2 separate regions of the Homo sapiens genome follow, and region 1 is linked to region 2. The links come from fine-mapping of genetic effects on gene expression. Tissue or cell type: whole blood. Region 2 holds a variant in brackets; the other region holds the start of a gene. All regions are shown on one strand. Distances are between the middles of the regions.

Region 1 (8,106 bases), 45 kb before region 2:
GATCAGGAGATCGAGACCGTCCTGGCTAACACGGTGAAACCCCGTTTCTACTAAAAATACAAAAAAAAAAAAAAAAATTAGCTGGGCGTGGTGGCGTGTGCCTGTAGTCCCAGCTGCTGGGGAGGCTGAGGCAGGAGAATGGCGTGAACCCGGGAGGCAGAGCTTGCAGTGAGCCGAGATCGTGCCACTGCACTCCAGCCTCGGCGACAGAGCAAGATGCTGTCTCAAAAAAAAAAAAAAAAAAAAAAAAAAAAAAGAATGACTTAAAAGTAAATTAAATTGGTAAATTGGTAAGAATTTAAAAAATTAATCGTGCTCCAATTAAATGCTAAATATGATATTTTCATGAGCAAATCAAGCTTACTTAATATAGTTTATGCACCTCAATCCACAAAGTGAATTTTTAAAGATTAAATAATGTAAGCCAAATAAGCTTGGAGGAAGGTAGGCAGAAGACATATTAGGCCATTAAAATGGGTTACTGTGGGAGGTAGAAATGAAGGATTGTAGGTGGGGGCATTAATTTTGTCTTACACATAATTCAATTATTTTTCTTGTTACAGTAAGCATACCTTATTTTTATAATTAACGTAAAATCTCATAATTAAAATCTAAACAAAAAAGAAAAATATTTGTAAAACCTAGACAAATAAGCATACGTTTACATTTTATTCACTCCCCATGCCATTTTCCTTCTATGTTTCAAAATATCAAGAAATGTTCATCTATAAGAAGAAGGTAGAGGTGGAAATACAGTAGGAGCTGAGAATGAATGAGTGAAGTAATGCCAACAAGAAAACCAAAATAATTGTTATCTCTGGCTAGTCTTTAAGCTTGTCTCCCAAGAAGTTCCAACTGTCCCGCTGCTGACATCATGCATGCTTCTCTTCGACGATGTCAAGCAAAGGGATGAGGCTATGAAGGGACAGAGGGGAACCCAGGGGACTGTCCACTGGGAACACATAGTAAAGGGCATGGCCCCAAACCGAGCCCAGACAGGAACAATTTAGTGAGACAAAGCAGGCTGCAGAGTCCAGCAGGGACAGAACAGTCCCAAGGGCAAAGCGGTTCGAGGTTTTATGTCTGGTGTGGTTGCTGGGCTGGTCCTTACACCTGTGAGCCACACAGGTCAGTGTGGGAGGGGTCAGTACCACAGGCCCTGTCCCCTATCCTGTTCCACAGCTGTTAAACGCCCAGGAAATTCCAGTATAATCCTTGCTCAGTTTAATGCCAAAGCCTCTATCCTTTAATCTCCACCTTGGAGATCTCTTCGTGCTCTGGCCTCCTGCCTTGAGAAGGATCCCATCATCAGGCTTCATGGAGGCATCCAGGACAGACAGTGAGGAGGTGGCTGTCCTCCGGCTCTTCTAGTCCCTGCTTCCTTGGCTGGAGAAGCCAATTTGTAGATTACCTAGCAGAGGACAGTCCTGTGTCCCTGGAGGCCTCCAGCCCCTGAGAATGTCCCCCAGAGCACTGTGACTCAGACAAATGTGCCTCCCACTCCCAGGCTGTGGAGCTGGGGGAGGCTTTTAAGATGCAGGCAGTGTCTAGGTCTAGCCAGACAGCCACTTAGAATGAGCCACTCTGTGCACTGACCGGGGACATGCGTGGCTCTGGAAAAGAGCATAAGGGAGGGTGTTAAGGCAGGAGGCAAATGTGCCTGAGAGATGAGTAAGTGGAAGGTTGTGGAAGAAAGCCCCTGAGTGCCAGGAGTAGCACCTGCGTCAGCAGTGCCTGAGGATGTGTGTCTACCTGGTGGAGTGTGTAAGGGAATGTGTATGAGATGAGGTGGGCGGGAGCAGATGCTGTCTGTGTAGATGGGGGCTGTTGCTTTCCTGTGGCAGAAGATGCACATCAGTGCTGGTTCCGGAGTGGTTCCATGGGCCCTTCTTCCTCACCTTCGGCCCCTGCTCTACCCCCAGTCTGGCTGTGAGTTGCTCTTGGCCCCAGGAGGTACTTCTGCAGAAACACCTGGGCTGGGAGAGGGAGCCAAGTGGGGGGCGGGGAGGAGTGGGTAAAGAAAGGGAAACCTGAGGCTTCCCAAACCCTCCAGAACCTGCCATCCTCCTTCTACCTAGAGTGGGAACTCAGGGTCTAGGGCCCAGGCTCAGGACAGAGTGATAGCAGAACAGCCGTCCCAGAAGGAGGATCCTGCCTTTCCCATGCTCAGCCCACCCCAGCCTGTTGCTCCCCAGCATTCTGGTAACTCAGTGTCATTGCCAACCATCTTTTTGCACCCTGAATGGAGTAATAGACTCCAAACAAGTCCTCCTTCTGAGGCCACCAGGTAAGTACATAGACACCCCCACGCTAATCTTCCTTTGAGAAAAAAGGCCCACTGCTCTGAAAAGCCAAGTGGCCCCACTGAGCAGCACTCAGAAGCCTCAATGCTCCAATGCCCCTTACTTGGGCAGCTTCTGTGGTCTACTAACAGCCCCACACAGCTCCCTCCCACTGGTCTCTCAGCTCAGGACCAGCATCTCCCCTCCTAGAGCCTCAGTCAAGTTCCCCTGGCGGGCGGAGGGCCTGGGTTAACTGGGAACAGACCCAGCAGCTCCGCTCCATGGGCGCTGCCAGGGACATTACAACATTGCTATGCTGGGTCCATGCCAGCTCCCCCAGGGATGGGAGGAGAGAGGGTGCCAGACGGCCAAGATCGGTGGGTGGGGGTGTGGGGCAAGCAGGGCCAAGCACCCAGATGGAGGGAGCAGAGCGAGGGTGGAGCTGGGGCAGGAGCACGCAATAGAATTTGGTTGCACGTTGGGGGTGATGGCTGGGCAGCAGGAACCAAGCGTTCCTTCCACCTCCAAGGCTTAACTGTGGTCATGGAGCTGGGGGGGACAGTGCCTTGTGGGGAGCAGGGGACAGGTGTGTGGTCAGCCTCCTGACTCCTCCCAGCTCCAAGGGGATTGGAGTGATGCCACTGGAGTCAGAGGGGTGGCAATCCTGTTCCAAGCGTGGAGCTCCGTCTCTGCGAGGACCCTCCCAGATTAGGACTCCCAAGCCAGAGCCAGAGGAGAATGTCTGGGAACGCAACTGGGGGATCCTAACAGCAAGGGTAATGCGGTGTCAATGATGCCAGGTCAGAGTGGAGTGAGAGGGGAGTAGCCAGGTTGACCGTTTCCTCACCCTTCATGAACCCCACTCTGGCCTTGAGGAAGGATCCTCAGTACTCCCTCAGGAAGCCACCTAGGGGCTGAGGAGCCCCACTACTCTTGCAAACCTTAATTCCTCTGTCCCCAAGCATACTGTCCCCGACCCCCACAACGCCGCCTGCTAACCCCGCGGGCTCACCTTCCCGTTGGCCGCAGTCTCTGCAGGTCTGCGCCCCCCGAGGCCTCGCAGTGGACCCGGGGCTCCTGGAGCTCGCACGGTGCCACCCGCGTCTTCTCCAGTCCGGGGACCCCGTTGCACCCGGCCCGGGTCCGTTCGGCGCCGAGAGTCCCTGGGATTCCGGGGTGGACCTGACGCTGGCGGCAGGGGCTGCTCCAGAGGTGGGGCGCCGGGAGATCCTGGGGGCCCGCGTCGAGATCGCCGTCGCCAAGCTGGGTCCCGGGTCCCGCCGCCCGCTGCTGTAGAGCCGCGGCTGGAGCGAACGCAGCCCGGCCCGCCCCCTCCGCGTCCCCTCCCAAGCCGGCCCGGCCCGCCCCTTCAGCCCCTTTGGCCGCCTTCCCACTCCCTTCTTCCGGGGAGCCGAGCCCGCCCTCCCGGCCTAGGCGGTGAGTGCGCGGCGCCCGCTCCTCCGCCCCGGCGCGCGGGGGAGACGCGGGGCGCGCCCGGGGCCCCGCCTGTGCGCCGGGAAGGGGGCGGCCTCCTCCCGCGGGTCTTGGCCGGGAGGATCGCACGCGTGGGGCGCCTGCAGGAAGTGGGAAGGGAAGAGGCTGTCTGTAAAGCCCCTGCCTGGGCTCGGGCTCGGGCTCGGCTTGGGTCGGACACCCGCGGAGCGAAGCGCAACTGGCGGACCGTGGCAGTTCAGGGCAGGGCAGAGCCCTGCACACACCCCCTCGCGCCTCCCTCCTCTTCGGCTTTAACTCTAGGAACTAAAACAGTGGGGCTCCTACTCAGCTTGGAACTAAGGTGGGCGTGAGCTGAGCAAGAGAGAAGGAAGGAAAAGCAGGGGGTGGAGGGAAAGACAAACTGAGAAATCTGGGAGAGTACGGGCGGTGGTAGGGGGAGCCGAGGCAGCGGGAGAGGGGGGCGTCTCGGTATGAAAGCGTCGCCGTGCTAGCCGGGAACTCTTTTCTCTTTTCGTGTCTGGATCTTGGTCAACGTTGGGGCTTCTGAGTCGAACCTCCCTCCATCTACCCTCCCCAAGGGGCAGGGCAGTCGGGTTGAAAAGGGGAAGCGCTGCTGTACGCCTGGCTCTGACATGGCTTGGGCAAGTCGCTGCACCTCTGGGTGCCTCCTCCCTCGCCCGCGCTCCGGAGAGAACCTCCCTGCAGTGAGGAGGGGCGGTGCAAGGTGCTCTCAGCTGGCGCCTGGAGGCAGGGTTGAGGAACCGAGGGGGCGCCGCGAGGAAAAGTGTTTCCGCCCACCTCTAACCCCTTCTCTAGCCGAGGACGGGGATTTGGGGTCTATTGTTTGGGTCCTACAGAGCTGGGCTGGGGCCTTGCCACGAAGTGTTGCTACCACCTGCTGGTTTTTCTAGGGAGCACAAGCACCCGGTGCGATTCCCTTTGCCCCCTTTTCTCCCTGTATCGCCCTGTCCCATCTTGCTCTCCTGTTTATTAAAGCAAATGGGCTGATCAAAACTGGTACTTAAAGAGCATTCAGAAGCCGAAGAAAATTGTGAAAGAGATCTATGAGCCAACAAACACAATAAACAAAACAATGAAACTCAGTAAGAGTCACCTGGGAGAGACAAACAGGCTTTAATGAATTGACTGAATGAGTGATAGAAAGATAAAGGCTACCGAGCAAGTTCCCACTTGGCCAGGGGTTTGTTCACTCTTAATATCAGGAGTCAATAAATAAGTCTGATAGTATTTAATGACTGCATTTGGACGTCATTAATAATTCCACTTGTACTGACGGTTCTACTTTATCTTGTTTCTTCCCTTTGCCCTGAAACTCAGTGGTGGAGGGCTTCCTTCATTTTCTGGTTATCTCCAAGGCTTTCAAAGACTTCTGCAAAGAAACAGAATTTGCATTGTGTGTGGAATTACGTAACTCATACATTAACATGCCTGATTGCTAGACATCTATGGTTATATTGAAAACTTAAAAAAAAGACACATAACTAGATTATGTTAAAATAAAAATATGGACAAAACCAAACCGTAGTTGTTACTTTATAAAACCCAGAAATTCCTGTAGTAATTTGCAACGTATCCTGTATTGACATAACAGTAAAAATATCTGCCTTCTTTTCTATTTCATGATATACCTCATATTAGGTGACTATAATATGAAATGAAGTTTTTGCTGCTCAAGGCTTGTGTAATTAGTTATATTTGTCTTGTTAATAAAATTTGAGAGGCATCTAGTTTTCAAAGGAAGTGTCATACTCAGGATGCAAAGAGGTTTAAATTTGTGATTAGTCGGCTTTGCATCCTAATTGCCTATGTCTTATCAAACCAAGTTTTAATGGTAGGTGGAGAGCATAGAATGCATTGTTAAAGTATGCTGCAACCTGCAGCTATTAAAAAGCAAAGTAATGAATTCCTTTTTAAAGTTTAATGTAAATTTTTTGCTATAATTTGTTTGGTGCCTGGGACACTCCAGGTGCTTAGAAGTGTTATAGAATGAATCAATAAAAAATAATATTTAAACTTTTTCTATGTGGATGGGCACAGTGGCTTATGCCTGTAATCCCAGCACTTTGGGAGGCTGAGGTGAGAGGATCACTTGAGGTCAGGAGTTTGAGATCAGCCTGGCCAACATGGTGAAACCTCATCTCTACCAAACAATACAAAAATTAGCCAGGCATGGTGATGCATGCCTATAGTCCCAGACACTCAGGAGGCCAAGGTGGGAGAATCGCTTGAACCCGGGAGGCGGAGGTTGCAGTGAGCCAAGATTGTCCTACTGCACTCCAGCCTGGGCGACAGAGTGAGACCCTGTTTCTTTCTATATATATATGTGTGTATATATATATATTTTTTTTTTTTGACTTGTTCAAAAAAAAAACCCTGGAGTATTGCTAATGGGCAGGACCTAATAAAGTTTATGGCTCACAGAATTAATCATTTCTGGCACACAACAATCTATTATGTAAATTTGGAACCAAAAGGAACTGCTGAGTAGAAAACTCCAGGTGAGATAGGAAGGCTCCTAGATTGGTTCTGCCTCATTTTTTCTGAGTTTTTGCCTCCTTCTTGGGCTTTGCTCACTCCCCTAGGATGTGCAATTTTCTTCTTCCTTATTTCCCCTTAGAACAGCTAATGTAAGCTGATGTTGTCATAAACAAAGAGCTTTACAAATAATTTCACTGATAAGAATTCTAGTAAAAAGCCATAAAGGAGTCTTCTGAGTCCCCTATCTCTTATTCCAAAACATTAGTTATAGCTCCCAATGCATGACCTCACAGGGCTCAGGCCCTTCACTGAACTGTCTTGAGGCTTTGTGGCCTCTAGGTGCAGTTGCACTTCCTAAAAGCTGGAGTCTAGTCTCCAAACACTTTACCAATGGAAGTGTTAAATGCCCATTTGTACAACTAAAGCTTTTATTGTTTTCTGTTCAGAAACTTCTAGAATGTTCAAAAATTCTCCTATGTTACTGGTTTGTTTGAAAGTCAAACCTAGATTGCAACTGATTTGTAGACCAAGGGTAATGGATACCCTTCATGGTGGTATTAAAGTTTACCCATCATAGTCCTACACTTTGATATTACTTTAACCATGCAATAATAACAAGGTATTCAGAGATATTAGTGCCTCCAAGAGAAAGAGGATGGCTTTTCTCTCAGTTAGGGGTTGACTTCAGCTATATGTAACAGCAAAGTTGTACAACAGTGGTTTAAACAAATTAGATAACACAGAAATACGATGAAGGTCCCAAGTCAACAAGACTCCAACTTTAGGATGAGGACTTGTTCTCAGATTGTCAACATTTTAGCCAGAGCTCCAGCTATGAGGTCTACAAATTTCAGGCAAGAAAAAGAAGGGAACAGGATTAAAACGCTACATCCAGCTGAATTAGCACTGTTCAAAGAACCTTTCTGGAAGATCCATTCAGTGACTTCATATGTATTATTGGCCAGGACAGTGTCACGTGACCACCCCTACCTGCTTGAAACCTGCAAAATACATGCTGCACAAAATGAAATTAAAGCTGTTAAACCTAAGAGAGGAAGAAAGAAAGCGTGTTAGCCAGGGGAACAGCAGCCTCTGCCACAAATGAAATAAAATGATCACGGTAATCTACATTTTTCCCTGCAATCAACAGAGATCTCTATCTCCTTTTTATAGGATATACTTGCTGGTACTTTCCCCCAGACCACTGTCTTTACATAGGTTTAATGCTCAAAGATGGTCCCCAGGAAGTTAGTGGAGTGAAGGGAAATGCTAGGAGTGTCCTCTTTCTAAAATAACCATGACATGATCTCAAAAGAAAAATAACAAATCCTTTGCAGTTACCCATACAAACAATAGGACTTGAAAACATTCTAGATTTTAATAAGATTTTGGGCAGGGCAGTCCTCATATGCAGAGCAGAAGTGATCAACACTCCACACCATTCTTTGCTCCTTTCCTGGTTTGTATCTTTTCCATTCAGGTGCATATAGGAGATGGGATGATCTATGATGTGGAGCAGATGGTCCCCTGGTCGGCTCTTCCAGTAGAATGCAGTCTATTTCTGGAGCTGCGCCTCCAGATAGTGCTCTCTGAAAACATTTGCATTTCCTAAACTGAAAGGGTGGCCTGCATTTCTATGAGATCTGCCTTCTACTTGTAGATGTGGCTGACACATTTCCTGGTTCCCATATTCTCTTGTCTTATAGTATACGTCTCTCTCTACATTCAAATGGATTCTGAGAATCTATCCCATCAGAACTTAAAGCACCACCGACAAAGTGGAGCTAGTCAACATGAAGAATGAGTAAACAGCAACGACAGCACTTGAGATCTTTTAACAATCTGAAGCAAAGTAGAAAAGGAATGAAGA
Region 2 (8,106 bases):
AATGAACCCAAATCCATATGATTCCAAGTCTCTGTGATGTTTCCTATTACTCATATTGCATTTAGAGGATAAATTAGATCTAGTTGGCCCATTAGAGACACATGGAGCAGATTCCAACTTTGATCAGTTCAGGAGTTAATTATGCCTGTCCAGGTCTCAAAATCTGTCTGCCAGGGATGAAGATTATGCAGGCGATCCCTTTGGCTGTCATAGAAGCTTCCTGCCCTCAGAACTGAGCATTTCTGCTTTGATTACCCCAAAATACCTGAATCTCTTGAGCCCTATCCTTTCATCTCCCAGGTAACATGTCTAGCTCTAGTTTCCAATTTCAGATAAACTAAAATCTTTTTTCATCCTTCTATCAGTATCACAGTTTCTCTGAAGCTTTCCCAGGCTTCTGATGTCTCCCGGGGGAGCTGGAGAGTTACCTTTAGTTTACAGGTAAATAATGAGTCATTAAATATATTTACATACCAGGATGTCAGCAGGAATGCAAAGAAGATAACAAGTGCAGAGTATAGCTGGTTCCCAGGGAGGCTGGGGGTGATTCACCACACTCTTAAAAGAAGACTAGCCTCATTTCCTCCCCAGCTCATGGGGTAGGATTCCTCTGCTCTGGCAGCAGATCTCCCAGAGGGAGCAGCCTGACCACATCACTGGCCCAGAAGAGGAGGCGTCTGTCCCCCAGACTAGCTGAAGGAAAGGCTGGCTTGGATGATGCTCTGCTCTCTCCTTGCCCTTCTCCTGGGCACTTTCTTTGGTGGGTGCCCTCCTCTCTGGCAAGCCTCTTTTCTCATCCTCACCCTCACCCCAATCCCGTGAATGCAGAGTCTGAGCTGTTGGTTTGACACTCTTGAGTCTATTCCTGATTGTCTGGAACAGATATGGGAATTTAGCCTTAGGGGCTGATCTGATGATTCTTAGTTCTCTCTATCTCCTGAGAAGGAGTTCGTTCTGTTGGTCTTCCCTGGCCCAGGGATGCTTTGCATCCTTGGCTCCCCCAGTCTACTCCCCATGATGGATTCCAGGTGCCTGTGTCATGCAAGAGCTTGAGCTGCCCCTCTGTCTGGGGAAGGCAAGCCAGGCTGGGGTGCTCCTCTGTAAATGGCACTTTATCTTTCCCACAGGGGTCAGATCTCAGACTATTCATCAATGGCCAGCGACCCTGGTGCAGCCTGTGGGCAGCCCGCTCTCTCTGGAGTGCACTGTGGAGGGAACATCAAACCCCAACCTATACTGGTACCGACAGGCTGCAGGCAGGGGCCTCCAGCTGCTCTTCTACTCCGTTGGTATTGGCCAGATCAGCTCTGAGGTGCCCCAGAATCTCTCAGCCTCCAGACCCCAGGACCGGCAGTTCATCCTGAGTTCTAAGAAGCTCCTTCTCAGTGACTCTGGCTTCTATCTCTGTGCCTGGAGTGTCACACTGAGCTGGGTGGGGCAGACATCTGTGCAAAAACCCCACCCTCTCCTGAGCCCTAACCATACTCCCCAGGGGCCTTCACTTAGGGACTGGGTGGAGGATATTTGTAAGTAGGTTTCTGACTGCTGGCCAATGTGAAAGCAATGGAATAAAGCGAGAATTCTACAAAAGACTCTACTAAGTTCTCAGGGAGAACAAAAAATTGTATGTGTGCAGAACCTGTGATTTGCCTGCACATAGTCAAGTTCTCAATGTATGGATGTCCCGGCCCAGGCTACCATACTCCAGCCCTCAAGGTGTGCTATACCTTGCCTGATTTTCTAGTCTTCCAAATTCTTCTATGTGTGCCGTGGGGAGGGGGTTTGTGCATATATGGCTGAGAGAAAGGATATACCTGTGGCAGGAGGTGAGCTGGTGAACAAACGGGAGGATGCCAACCCAGGTTACTTAATTGGTTAATTTCATCACCTGGAGAGTCTCCTGTCATTGATCTTTCTGCTGAGACTAGAAATTATGGGGAGGCTTAGACCTGAGGCTTTGAGTCAGGCAAAGAGGCAAGATGTTCAGGAGACTGTTCTCATTCGAGGCAGAAGTGTGGTTTTGTTAGTATAGGTAACATGCACTTAGGCCAGACGTGGTAGCTCATGCCTGTAATCCCAGCACTTTGGGAGGCTGAGGCAGGAGGATCACCTGAGGTCAGGAGTTTGAGACCAGCCTGGCCAATATGGTGAAACCTGTCTCTACTAAAAGTACAAAAATTAACCGGGCGTGGTGGCAGGCGTCTGTAATACTAGCTACTTGGGAGGCTGAGGCAAGAGAATCACTTGAACCTGGGAGGTGGAGGTTGCAGTGAGCCAAGATCATGCCACTGCACTCTAGCCTGGGTGACAGAGCGAGACTCTGTCTCAAAAAAAAAAAAAATAAAAATAAGCTTGCACTTAGAAATTTTGGTGATGTTTGAGGTTTTAAAAAATGTCCTGTTGTACTATCTTGTAGCCCTTCCTTTGTAGCAAAGACAGACAGATGGTGATCCAAGAGATACGCAAGAAGAGGACCGTGTGTGTAATGGTTGAGCTCTAAAAAAGAGAAATCACTTGGATGGAAATGAAGGAGAGGAAAAGGCTGATGTGGATGGCTGGGAAGAGGTTCGATGGTTACCTTGGCAACTGAGCTTCCTTCCTCATCCCCATCCCTCCCTAGTCCTTGTTCTTAAAAAGATTTTCTTTCTAATGTCCCTTCCCCTCCACAAGGGGGCACAAGATGTCTTAAAATACTCCATTCCGGGCATCATTTAACCTAGATCAATCCAGACACGTGCATATTTCTAGTATCATTTAATCTGAAGTGGAAAATCTGAGATGTAGACACAGAGTGATCAAGAACATATGGAATAATGCCCAGGGGTCCCTACTGAACTTTAAGGATCACCTATGTATTAAGCAGCTATTATTTGCTGGACACAGTGAGTCATTTTGAGGATTAAAAAGAAAAATAAAATGTACTCGAGATGGTGTTGGGCACAGTCATAGCATGATTTAGTCAAAGCACTTGATTTTTGTAGTCTAAAAATTTGCTAGTTGTTATGAACTTGACCTAGTTATTTAATTTTACTAAGTTTCAAGTTTTTCCCCACCTATAAAACTTGCCTCATTGAATTGTTATGTGTATTAAATGAGATGGTGTTTATAAAGCCCTATTACAAGCTCTAATTTTCAACAGGTATTATTTTCCGCTCCTTAAGCTTACAAGATTATTTTCATTACAACTTACCCAAGAGGAAGACTTAGTTAAAAAATTTCAAATCATAAACTACAAGTATGTAATAAATATTAATATTTAAAATGCTAAACATGCTTGGATGGCAAAACCATGAAACTTGAACCCTATGCTGTGCCTATTCAGATGCTGATTCTGTAGGGGCTTTATACAGCTTCAGAATCCTCATTAATAGAGAAATGTCTCAGGCAATCACCACTAGTCAAGTAGAATTAGTAGAGACTTGAGGCAGATTTTTCCTTCCTGTAATATACTGCAAAAATTCTGGAAAACTTCACAAAGGACATAAAATTGTAGCTAAGTTTAGCTCTTTAGGAGGCTAATAGTTATATAAGCAAAATGACATTGCAAGCAGGAGAGTCAGTTTGTGTAGAAATGTGCAGGTCTATGTGAATATTGTAAGTTTTAGAGAATCTGAAGAAAAAAAGTCCTGATCATTGCACAGAGCATCCTAGAGACAGGTGAGCATTGAAGGAGAGGCTTGAAAGCCACCTAAATTCAGCAGAACAAATTAACATCCTCCATGTTATCTGCTCTTATTCATGCAAGACTGTTCATTCCCATAACTGTTTCCATACCATCTAGGACTCAGAAATCCACAGTCATTATAATTCCAGGGGACAAAGGAAAGCAGTTTAGGATGACCGATCCTGTTCAGACATGCTGTCTCTTGCCAATAATTCATCAAACTCACTTGCCCCTTTAATCAGATGAGGCTGTCTCTTTTCTAGGAGAGCTTCCAGGATTTGCATCTGATTTTGCAGATGTGCAGGATGACTATTTCCATATATCTCCTTCCCTGGCCAGTTGCACATGGAAGATTCAGGGCCACATGCTGGTGGCCAGAGGCACTCTCCCCAAGATGCTTCTCATAGATCTCAGCCACCCATGGGACTTATAAGGAGATACCCTTGTGCCTCTAAATAGATCTCAGCCACCCATGGGACTTATAGGGAGTCACCCTGGGGCCTCTGGACAGCTTGAGTAAGATGAAGAATGCCCGGGGTTGGGAAGCTGGTAATACTAAAATTAGGCGACTTCTTATTTTTGCCCAGGATTCAGTGGTTTGGGATAAGAATGCTACAATCCCTTGAGCTCCTGCAGAGCAGGCTTGACCTATTATATACCTGGTAATTTCCCACTACTTACTTTGGGGGTTTCTGCCTCTCTAGTTTTTCATTCTGTCTTGCATTATGTTCTTCTAAGATGTGTTAGAAAATATTCATCACACAGACCTTACAGGCTTTAGCAACTACAGGAAAAAACTACGAGGAGCCAGTCAATGCAGTGCACAAACACTGGCTCAGACATCCAGGGACTGTCCGTTTTGCAGTCTGTTGGTTATCTAGGGCTACCTCTCCTGTGACTCATCAGCACCTCTCATTACATGAGTGGAAGGAAGTGGGAGGATACATGTGGAGGGAGGTGGAAGGGAGTTTGGGGGGCAGGTGGGAAGAGAGAGTTGCCTGAGTGATGTGGGACCAGAAGGGATCCCAACTGGGTCAGAGCAGTTATTGCAGCTGTTTTTCATTCTCCACTATCTTCATGGTGCCCACTGTGGCCTTTGATCTTGTGCATAACCTCCAGCAGGTGTAAAGATGTGTTGGGGGAGGGGAGGCCTGCACATGGATCTGGGATACCTAGATTCCCCTCTAGAGACCCTGCCCCTCCCCTCTGAAGTTCTATTTCTACTGCCAGGATGCTAACCAGGGGCCCAGGTAGAAAGAGCAGCATAGGAGGGGGTTGGGTGCCGGATGCGGTGAGTGTGGTTCTCATGATGCTCTGAAGGTGGGTGGGTGGAGGGAGC[A/G]ACTTTCACAGGCACCCCAGATGCAGGACCCAGTAAATGTCAAACCACATCCTGTTGTGACTGTAAGAGATGGAGCTAGGGCAGGTGGCTGCTGTGGCTTGGTGCTGATGTGACTCAGAGATAAACAGCCCGGCAGCCAGCACTGGGCTCAGAACCCCCATTCCTACCCCAGTTGTCAGCTATTACCTAAAAGACCCCGATTTACATCTCATTACTTCCCACCTTTTGATTCAGGGCCACTCTCCTTTTTAACACAATTTTCTTGTCATTCATGGCCCTAGACCTTTTTGATGGAGGAGGGCCAGGGAACAGGTGTCAGGGCTCCAGTTGACTCTTGCTAACTGTGGGACTCCAGTGCCAGTGCTGTCCTCTTCCACCATCAGACTGTCTGAGACTATGTCACAGATATGTATGATTTGAGGCCAGGAAGAGCTTAGCTTCTCTGAGTTCCCATTCTCTTGGTACTTCAGAGACTGCAGGCTTTGAATCAGAGAATCTGAAGAGCAGAGTTTGAAGATTCTTAGAGATCACTTTACCCAATGTCCTCATATCACAGAGGAGGACATATAAGCCCAGAGAATAAAAATGAGTTGTTCAGAGCCATGCAGCTGGGGCCAGAGGAGGACCAGAAGCTAATTCTCTGTGTTTTAGCAGCTCCTGGACTTCAGACAAGGCTTGGGGAATGTGGGGTCTCTGTTGAGCTGTGATCTTGCTATGAATTTCATGAATCACTCTTATAGTAATGAATCAGGCAAGATGATCATATCTGAGATGGCATGAGGATAGAAGGATAAATATAATGAATCACAAAATTAGAATCCTGCAGAATCTTAATAGGTTGGAGAGATAAGCTGAATAAACATGATAAACATTCTCTCTCTCCCTCCTCCCCCACCAAACAGAGAAAACCATCTATATGAACACAGGAAGGGGAATATGTGAAAGAAGGATATGTGAAAAAACACCCAGGGGGTGAGTCAAAGTGAGCTCTGTGAGTCAACGGGATGGTGAGCGTACAAAAAGTAGATAAATTGTCCTAATGGAACCAACTAACGTATAAGATGTTGAGAAAGAGGAGGCAAAGTTCCCCCTTTACTCTTTGTAGGTCAGAACCCACCTGGTGCTGGGTCAGGTCCTGTACAACACATTTTTTAAAAGATAGAGGGATAAAAACAAACTTTAATGTTTTCAGAAGGGAGTGATTGGGCTATGGAAAGTAGGACGTGCTCAAAACTGTGCCCTATAATAACAAAATTGAGAAAACTGAAAATGTTTTGCCTGAAAAAAATCTTCAGGTTGGTAGTAGTTATAATAACACCTAATACTTACTGATATTGTTCTAAAAGCTTTACATGTTGTGTGGGTTAAATGAGATAAAACGATCTTATGAAGTTGGGCTTGTAATTGAGCTCATTTTACAGCAAGGAAAACTGAGTCTCAGAGGTGATCACTTGCCCAGGGTCACATAGTTGATAAATGACAGAACTAAGGCTTAAACCCAGGTCTCTGCATTACAACATCTTCTTTGCTACGATAATGTTTTCATCCATCCACTACATGCTTTTTTTCCATTCCAAAAACTCAAGTTTTAAAGTTTCTAATGATTCTGTCTCGCATAGATTTATGGGTTCTTGCCAGAATATGGGCACTCTGTTGCATGTAGACACCTGAGAGGGCTTTTGGGGGGACTATAGGGTCCCAGAGATAAGTGAATAGCAACTGTAGGTTGGCAAAAAGGAGCTGAGAATTAGCTTTACATGTTGTGTGGATTAAATGCTCATATTCACAGAGGGCAGTTGAGATCAGTTGCAGAGCAAGCTGATAAAAATCCTTTGGAAATAGTCACAGGTGTAGGCTCATTTTCAGATCCTTTTTGCTGACCTACAGAAGCCATTCACTCATTTTTGGGGCCCCATATTCCCCAAGAAGCCCTCTCAGGAGTCCACCAGCAGCAGAGATAAAGACTATGGATAGAGATGGGAGAGAAAGGCATGTAGTTGAGTCTATAGGAGAGGGGGATGGCGAATAGAAAATATCATGTCTGTTGGAGGGAGATGATTCATAAGTTCTGCCACAATAAAAAAAATAAAAGGACAGGCAGAGATGTAGGGATGTTAAGGAACCCAGGAACTTCAAATTCACAAACACAGACAGCAAGAAAAGGAAGGCTTCCAGATAGGAGGAAAGAACATTCAACCCTAGAATAAGGCAGGGAATATGTTGTGTTTGAGTCTAGGTGGGTTGGGTAGTCTTAGGTTATGGGGTCCCAAGCCTCAGAAATCAGCTTTTTGGGAGCCATGGGAGTTTGCCACAAGCAATGGAAATGAACTGTGATTAAAACTGTTGGCCATGCTTCATGCCATTCTATACTATGAGTCTTCTTATATAGCATAGGGGAGTTTCTAGGACATGGTAAAAGTGAACCTGGTGATGAGTCTGAGATGTCAGTAGAGAAGCAGAAAATGGATTCACTCATGGGTCCATGGCAAAGCTGAGTTCACCTCTGGGTTTTAGCCATTCCCGTGATCTCCACCAGCATCTCCCAACACCCCTAAATGAAAATATGGCTAGACATCTTTGCTCAGTGTTACCTGAGGAAGAAGCAAAAACTCATTTTTGTTTTCACTATGCAGCTTCAACAGAGGTCTCAAAGCACCAATATTCCATTCCCACATTCATTTATAACCAGAGAAACCTCACAAAGATTCTCCTATATAGGACATTTGGGGCTGTGTGTCACACAGACTGTTAGGGGCTGATATCAGTCTATCTCCACCCCTCCTTTCTGGGCCACTACAGAAGAAAAATGAGGAAATGGCTCAGGGACGGAAATGGAGACTTTAATATCTATTAGGATCCATTGCCCTTATCTCAAACTCTTATTATGAAATCACTCCCTTGAGAGAGAAAAAGCCTTTTTCTCTTGGATTGTCCCAGCAGCTCCCGACCATCCCCACTCCCCAACCTTATGTGGCCCAGCAATGAGCCTAGTAGTAGGAAAATCTCTATGGATACTGGTGCTGATGGGAAGATTCTTCCTCTCAGGAAGTGATGGTGACTGGGGCTCTGGGATGCTCACGGGAATCCCATTTCCCCCACAAAG

Evidence for each region. PIP is the estimated chance that this variant, and not a neighbour inherited with it, causes the effect.
Region 1: it holds the start of EPHB6, and the variant in region 2 is fine-mapped to the expression of EPHB6 in whole blood (INTERVAL, PIP above 0.99).

The regions. Positions count from the first base shown.
Region 1 is chr7:142,850,574-142,858,679 of GRCh38, reverse strand. It overlaps EPHB6 (EPH receptor B6), which reads right to left and starts at 3,604. Exons shown (of 20, transcript NM_004445.6): 1 at 3,295-3,604.
Region 2 is chr7:142,805,899-142,814,004 of GRCh38, reverse strand. It overlaps TRB and TRBV30. Among named protein-coding and RNA genes, the nearest start is that of PRSS2, 39 kb to the right of the region's middle. RefSeq lists a cis regulatory region at 4,404-5,295 and an enhancer at 4,417-5,616. The variant A/G (reference allele first, on the strand shown) is at 5,004.